Homo sapiens: one gene and its partner. The protein of the gene in region 2 interacts with the protein of the main gene of each other region in a biochemical or structural test. Each region holds a gene or a part of one and is shown on either strand. Other genes may lie near its edges.

Region 1 (3,500 bases), on a different chromosome or scaffold from region 2:
AGATCTGCAATGCGACTGCTGCTCCATGGCCTTCTTGTAGACCTTGCACTTTCCGGCACCTCCTGGCCTCAGGTCCAAAGTCTCCAACAGCTCTGATACCACTACCTTCCTACCCCCTATCCCGGGCTGCAGTTTCCATCTGCCTCCCATTCCTCTCCTACCCTCTCCCTCCACTCCAGTAAAGGTAACCTTATAATTTTCCTGACCTCCTTTTCTGCGTTTCTCTCCTCATCATACTCTAAGAAGTTTTTCCTAATTTTAAGAAAAGGAAGGCATCTATGTAAGTTAGGGTATGGACCCGAATAATCTTGCTCTTACTATCCCCAAAAACAAAAAGAAAGTACAATCTGTCAACTCAGCTGCTCTATCACTTTAAGAGAGTAAGCATCCCGAAGGCAATGACCATCAACCTCAAATATACATCTATCTGTCCATCAGAGTGCATAAACAATGCTCATATTCATGCAATGGAATACTACTCAGCAAGAAAAAAGAAACAACTAAAGATACACACAATGGGGATGGACTTCAAAATCATGATGTCAAGTGAGAGGGAAAGAAGTCTTTGACAAAGAGCACATATGGGTATGATTCTCTTTATATGAAGTTCTAGTGCAGGCAAAACTAACCTATGGTGGGGGTAGGAGTGGGATCGCATGAGGGAACTTTTTGGGGTGATATTCATGTCCTGTATATTGATAGCGGTTTGGGTTGATAAGTATATGCACTTGTCAAGTTATCAAATGGTGCACATAAGATTTGTGCGTTCAGCCAGGCGCGTTGGCTCACGCCTGTAATACCAGCACTTTGGGAGGCCAAGGCAGGTGGATCATGAGGCCAAGAGATCGAGACCATCCTGAAACCCCGTCTCTAATAAAAATAAAAAAAATTAGCCGGGCGTGGCAGCACACACCTGTAGTCCCAGCTACTAGGGAGGCTGAGGCAGGAGAATCGCTTGAACCTGGGAGGCGGAGGTTGCAGTGAGCCAAGATGATTGCGCCACTGCACTCTAGCCTGGGAGACAGAGCAAGACCCCATCTCAAAAAAAAAAAGATTTGTGCATTCATTGTTTGTAAATATCCACTCAAAAGAAAAGAACTATAAACAAATATTGAACTCTAGTGAATGATATGTATGTTAAAGTATTTGGGGCGAAATATACTGATGTCTACGTTTTACTTTGAGATGTGTAAAATTTTAAGACAGCTTGATGAGGTTGGGCAAGGTGGCTCACATCTATAATCCCAACACTTTGGGAGGCCGAGACGGGCAGATCGCTTGAGCTCAGGAGTCGGAGACAAGCCTGGGCAACATGGCAAAGCCCTGTCTCTACTCAAAATACAAAAAATTATCTGGATGTGGTGGTGCATGCCTGTGGGAGCTACTTGGGAGGCTAAAGTGGGAAGATCACCTGAGCCTGGGAGGTCGAGGCTACATTGAGCCACGATCATGCCATTGCATTCCAGCCTGGGTAACAGAGTAAGACCCTGTCTCAAAAGAAAGAAAGAAAAAAAAAAAAAACCATAGCCTGATGGATGGATCAAGGGATACAGATGTGTAAAAGCAAGGATAGGAAAATGTTAATTGTAGAATCTAGGAAATGGAGGGTATTCGTTGCAAAATTCTTTAACTTTTCTGAATGTTTGCAGGTCATTGTGATAAAATTTTGGGAAAAAATATGTATCTATCAGCCACTTCCTAAAGGCAAGCAACATAAAGATAAGTAAGCCCAGTGTCAGAGCTCAGGCTTTGGATATCAAGTAACAAACCTGTGAACAAATCTGAGTAAACAGGGCCGGGCGCAATGGCTCACGCCTGTAATCCTAGCACTTTGGAAGGCCGAGGAGGGCAGATCACCTGAGATCAGGTGTTCGAAACCAGCCTGGTCAACACGGTGAAACCTTGTCTCTACTAAAAATAGCTGGGCATGGTGGCATGCGCCTGTAATCCCAGCTACTCAGGAGGCTGAGGCAGGAGAATCGCTGAAACCTGGGAGGCAGAGGTTGCAGTGAGCCGAGATCATGCCACTGCACTCCAGCCTGGGCGACAGAACAAGACTCTGTCTAAAAAAAAAAAAATTAAATAAAAATGAAAAAAAATATGAGTAAATAGCTATGAAATCTCAGGCAAATCACTTAAGGCCTCCATGCCTCCATTTCCCCATCTATAAAAATGGAGATAATAATGGTACCTACCACCTAAGGTGGGGGAATTAAATGAAATATATTTAATTACCCTCAGAGAGGTACCTAATAGTAGCAGGGCACAGTTTTTGCAGTCTAAATGACACAGTAGAGAGGATAACAGAGTACACAAGTATGACTAAAATAAGTCAAAACCTTTGTACATGGAAAGTAAAGCCCAAAGAAGTGAAGGTAACTTGATAAGCACAAGGCCAAGCTGGATCACACTGGCTTGAGTCCAGAGGGCCCACGTAGCTAGTGCCAAGGATACTATGGACAGGCAATTTGTAGGGGCAGAAATACAAATGGCCATCAAACATGAACAGGTATTCAGCCTCCATAACATTCACAGACATGTGAAATTGAGGTATACTATTTTCAATTAGCAGTTTAGTAAAAACTATCAAGGTTGATAATATCAATCAATTAGGGCATGGGATGCAGGGAGTCTCATAAGTCTTGGTGGAAACACAAATTGGTAGGTTGGTGCAAAAGTAATTATGGTTTTTGCCGTTACTTTTTTTTTTTTTGAGACGGAGTTTCGCTCTTGTTGCCCAGGCTGGAGTGCAATGGCCCGATTTCAGCTCACTGCAATCCGCCTCCCGGGTTCAAGCAATTCTCCTGCCTCAGCCTCCTGAGTAGCTGGAATTACAGGCATGCGCCACCATGACCGGCTAATTTTGTATTTTTAGTAGAGACGGGGTTTCTCCATGTTGGTCAGGCTGGTCTTGAACTCCTGACCTCAGGTGATCTGCCTGCCTCGGCCTTCCAAAGTGCTGGGATTACAGGCTTGAGCCACTGCGCCCGGCCCTTTTTTTTTTTTTTGAGACGCAGTCTTGCTCTTTCACCAGGCCAGAGTGCAGTGGCACGATCTCTGCTCACTGCAAGCTCCGCCTCCCGGGTTCACGCCATTCTCCTGCCTCAGCCTCCCGAGTAGCTGGTACTACAGGCGCCCGCCACCGCGCCTGGCTAATTTTTTGTATTTTTAGTAGAGACGGGGTTTCACCATGTTACCCAGGATGGTCTCGATCTCCTGACCTCGTGATCCGCCCGCCTCGGCTCCCAAAGTGCTGGGATTACAGGCGTGAGCCACCGCACCCGGCCTGCCGTTACTTTTTAATGGCAAAAACCTCAATTACTTTTGCACCAACTAATGTATTTTCAGAGGTCAAGTCAGTGGTATCTGTGAAAAAAAAAAATTTTTTTAAGAGACAAGGTCTTGCTTTGTCACCCAGGCTGGAGTTTGGTGGCTCAATCATAGATCACTACAGACTTGAACTCCTGGGCTCAAGTGATCCTCCTGTCTTAGCCTCCTGA
Region 2 (4,134 bases):
TTTTCAGTGAAATCACTAATTTTTTAAATAATATTTTTACACAATCTGTGTTCCCTCAATTACACAACTTTTTGAGTAGTTTGTGGGACATTTATAGTTCTTAGAAAGTTTTTTGTCAAGTCAGTGGATCTAAATTTTGCACTGTTGAGGCAGTAGCAACTGGAATTGTCAGACTTCTTAAAACATTGTTATATTTTGTAATGAGACATGAATTTTACATATCATGTTTAAATATCATAACAGGACTCCATATGATTAAATTATAATTCTTACAAAAATGCTTTATCATGTCTCTATTACTTGTGATGTTTATCTTTTTGCCCAGCTTTTTATCTTGAAAAATGTTAAACCTACAGAAAAGCTGCTAAAATAATAGCACCCAAATCCTTTACCCTAAAGCTGCTAAAATAATAGCACCCAAATCCTTTACCCTAGATTCATCAATTGTAAATTCACACTTTTGTTCTGAATCATTTGATAGTTACTTGTAGAGATAACACTACTCCTAAATACTTCAGCATGTATCACCAGAGAACTGGGGCATTCTCCTATATAATTACAGTGTAATTTTCATACTCAGGAAACTGAGGTAAGTACAACACATTATTATCTAATGTGCAGTTTTTATACAGATTGTCCCAGTAATATTCTTTACTTCCTTATACAGAATGCAGTCAAGGATCATTCCTTGCATTTCTTTGTCAAATCTCTTTAGACTTCTTTAATCTAGAACAGTTTCCTTAACTCTGTTGCCAGCAGATGAGATTTTAAACCAGAGAGACCTGTTTGAAATCCCTGCTTTTCCCTTCTCTAGATGCATTTTTCTTAACCTGTTATTACAGTAGCCTTTTCATCTTATCCATAGTGGTGTTATGCTATGCCTGTAATATAGTGGATATCCCAATGACATGATTAACTACTTCTAACAAACAGTCTCTGTAGAAAAGTAGAGTAATTTGCCTCAACACATATATGATCATAGAATTGTAAAGAGAACCTTAAGGAAATCTGAAAGACAGTATAATCTAATTGCTTCTCGCCACGGAACTGAGATGTTTAAAAGTGAATCCCTTGCTCGTACCCAGCAAGCTAGAGAGGATGGACATCAAGGTCTCCCAATTGAGAGCCCAGTCACAACCATTATCCCCTACAGTCTTCAGCACAATGTGGGGAAATGTAAATAACCATTAGAAATGTGCTGGATAATTATGAAAGTCTTTATAACTTGTAAAAACAAAGTTCTGTTCATCTGTGATTTCATCTTAGCGAATTTTTGATAGAACAGCCTAAATTCTTTGATAGAACAGCCTAAATTTTTACTTTAAGACTTTAAATAGAGCAGTTTTAACTTGTCTAAGATTTGCAGGCAATAGAGAAATATACTGTCTGTTTCTATTACTCAGCATACCTCCTGCCTACCTGCTTGTCTTAAAAAGTGTGTGGTAAACCAGCAGATATTTAGGAAGAAACTAATAGTTGCAATCAAGAACCTATTATATCTAGATGCAGTGGCTCATGCCTGTAAATCCTGGCACTTTGGGAGGCTGAGGTGGGAGGATAGCTTGAGACTAAGGCTTCTAGACCAGCCTGGGCAACATGGTGAAACTCCATCTTAAAAAATTTTTTTTAAAAGAACCTATTATACATAGCAAATAACTTTCCCAATAACACTGCACTACAGTGTTTCTGTGGTAAGGATTTAATTGTACTTATGTTAATTGATCTTTCCTTTCTACCTTCCTGGGGTGGGTTCTCACTCTGTCACCCAGGCTGGAGTGCAATGGTACCCTCATGCTCACTGCAGCCTTGACTTCCCCAGGCTCAGGTGATCCTCTGACCTCGGCCTCCCAAGTAGCCAGGACCACAGGTGCGTGCCACCATGCCCACTTAATTTTTTGTAGAGACAGGCCTTCACCATGTTCCCTAGGCTGATCTCGAACTTCTGGGCTCGAGCAATCTGCCCGCCTCAGCCTCCCAAAGTGCTGGGATTACAGGCATGAGCCACCACACCTGGCCTGTTTTTTGAATATTCTAATTCCATTGTTACCTTGAGATAAATGAAGACATTACCAACCTGATTTACTTAAGGCAGATCCTTGAAGATCCTGCCTGAATGAACTAATGGAAGACCAGAGTTCCCTTATCTCAATGAGCTTATCTGATACAGTATCTATATCATGTGGTACCTGTAATTAGAAAAATCAAAGTCAGTCATAAACATTTAATAACCTATATCAGAATGTGATGTTTAATAACCTATATCAGAATATGATGTTTGACCGTGTCACAATATTGTTTTACCTATCCCATGCCTCTATTCCAAATGAAGGAAGTGAAGAATGCCTGGGCACTGTGGAAGGAGGGAAGGTCAGGTGTTTGGGGGATTTTGATAGGAATCAGCACTAAGCACAGACTATTTTCCTGAAAGGCAGATGTGTATGAGCTGTGGCTTGGCAGTTAAATACCACGAGGCAAGAAATTGGACTCATTAAATAAAAATTTGACTTTGGTTCAAGGTAAAAAGAGGTATTAAAAAAAAAGCTAATTGCACTGTTAATGCTTCCAGAGCTTTAGTAGATATAATTTGATAAGAAATATTTGGGAGACAAGCTTGTCAGAAAATGAACTCAGCTGCATTCTTATGCTCAGAGTCTTTCTTCTCTCTTGCTTCCCAGGGTTCTTGGGGATCTGGAAAGGATCAGTATAGCAGGGAACTGCTTGTGTCCTCCATCTTTGCAGCTGCTAGTCGCAAGAGGAAGAAGCCGAAAGAAAAAGCACAGCCTAGCAGCTCAGAAGATGAACTGGACAATGTATTTTTTAAGAAAGAAAATGTGGAACAGTGTCACAATGATACTAAAGAGGAGTCCAAAAAAGAAAGTGAGACACTGGGCAGAAAACAGAAGATCATCATTGCCAAAGAAAACAGCACTAGGAAAGACCCCAGCACGACAAAAGATGAAAAGATATCACTAGGAAAAGAGAGCACGCCTTCTGAAGAACCCTCACCACCACACAACTCAAAACACAACAAGTCACCAACTCTCAGCTGTCGCTTTGCCATCCTGAAAGAGAGCCCCAGGTCACTTCTGGCACAGAAGTCCTCCCACCTTGAAGAGACAGGCTCTGACTCTGGCACTTTGCTCAGCACGTCTTCCCAGGCCTCCCTGGCAAGGTTTTCCATGAAGAAATCAACCAGTCCAGAAACGAAACATAGCGAGTTTTTGGCCAACGTCAGCACCATCACCTCAGATTATTCCACCACATCGTCTGCTACATACTTGACTAGCCTGGACTCCAGTCGACTGAGCCCTGAGGTGCAATCCGTGGCAGAGAGCAAGGGGGACGAGGCAGATGACGAGAGAAGCGAACTCATCAGTGAAGGGCGGCCTGTGGAAACCGACAGCGAGAGCGAGTTTCCCGTGTTCCCCACAGCCTTGACTTCAGAGAGGCTTTTCCGAGGAAAACTGCAAGAAGTGACTAAGAGCAGCCGGAGAAATTCTGAAGGAAGTGAATTAAGTTGCACCGAGGGAAGTTTAACATCAAGTTTAGATAGCCGGAGACAGCTCTTCAGTTCCCATAAACTCATCGAATGTGATACTCTTTCCAGGAAAAAATCAGCTAGATTCAAGTCAGATAGTGGAAGTCTAGGAGATGCCAAGAATGAGAAAGAAGCACCTTCGTTAACTAAAGTGTTTGATGTTATGAAAAAAGGAAAGTCAACTGGGAGTTTACTGACACCCACCAGAGGCGAATCCGAAAAACAGGAACCCACATGGAAAACGAAAATAGCAGATCGGTTAAAACTGAGACCCAGAGCCCCTGCGGATGACATGTTTGGAGTAGGGAATCACAAAGTGAATGCCGAGACTGCTAAAAGGAAAAGCATCCGGCGCAGACATACACTAGGAGGGCACAGAGATGCTACCGAAATCAGCGTTTTGAATTTTTGGAAAGTGCATGAGCAGAGCGGGGAGAGAGAATCTGAACTTTCAGCTGTAAACCGGTTAAAACCAAAATGCTCAGCCCAGGACCTTTCCATCTCAGACTGGCTGGCCAGGGAACGCCTACGCACCAGTACCTCTGACCTTAGCAGAGGAGAAATCGGAGATCCCCAGACAGAGAACCCAAGCACAC

Evidence for each region. Proteins that work in one complex are often made in the same cells at the same time.
Region 1: the proteins of ARHGAP21 (region 2) and MYO18A interact in a test that uses a peptide from one of them, tested with the Homo sapiens proteins (one large-scale study listed by IntAct).

The regions. Positions count from the first base shown.
Region 1 is NC_000017.11:29,170,399-29,173,898, forward strand, and holds part of MYO18A (unconventional myosin-XVIIIa), read right to left. Parts: intron 1-3,500.
Region 2 is NC_000010.11:24,584,648-24,588,781, reverse strand, and holds part of ARHGAP21 (rho GTPase-activating protein 21), read left to right. Parts: intron 1-2,675; coding exon 2,676-4,134. UniProt on the Homo sapiens protein: Functions as a GTPase-activating protein (GAP) for RHOA and CDC42. Downstream partner of ARF1 which may control Golgi apparatus structure and function. Also required for CTNNA1 recruitment to adherens junctions.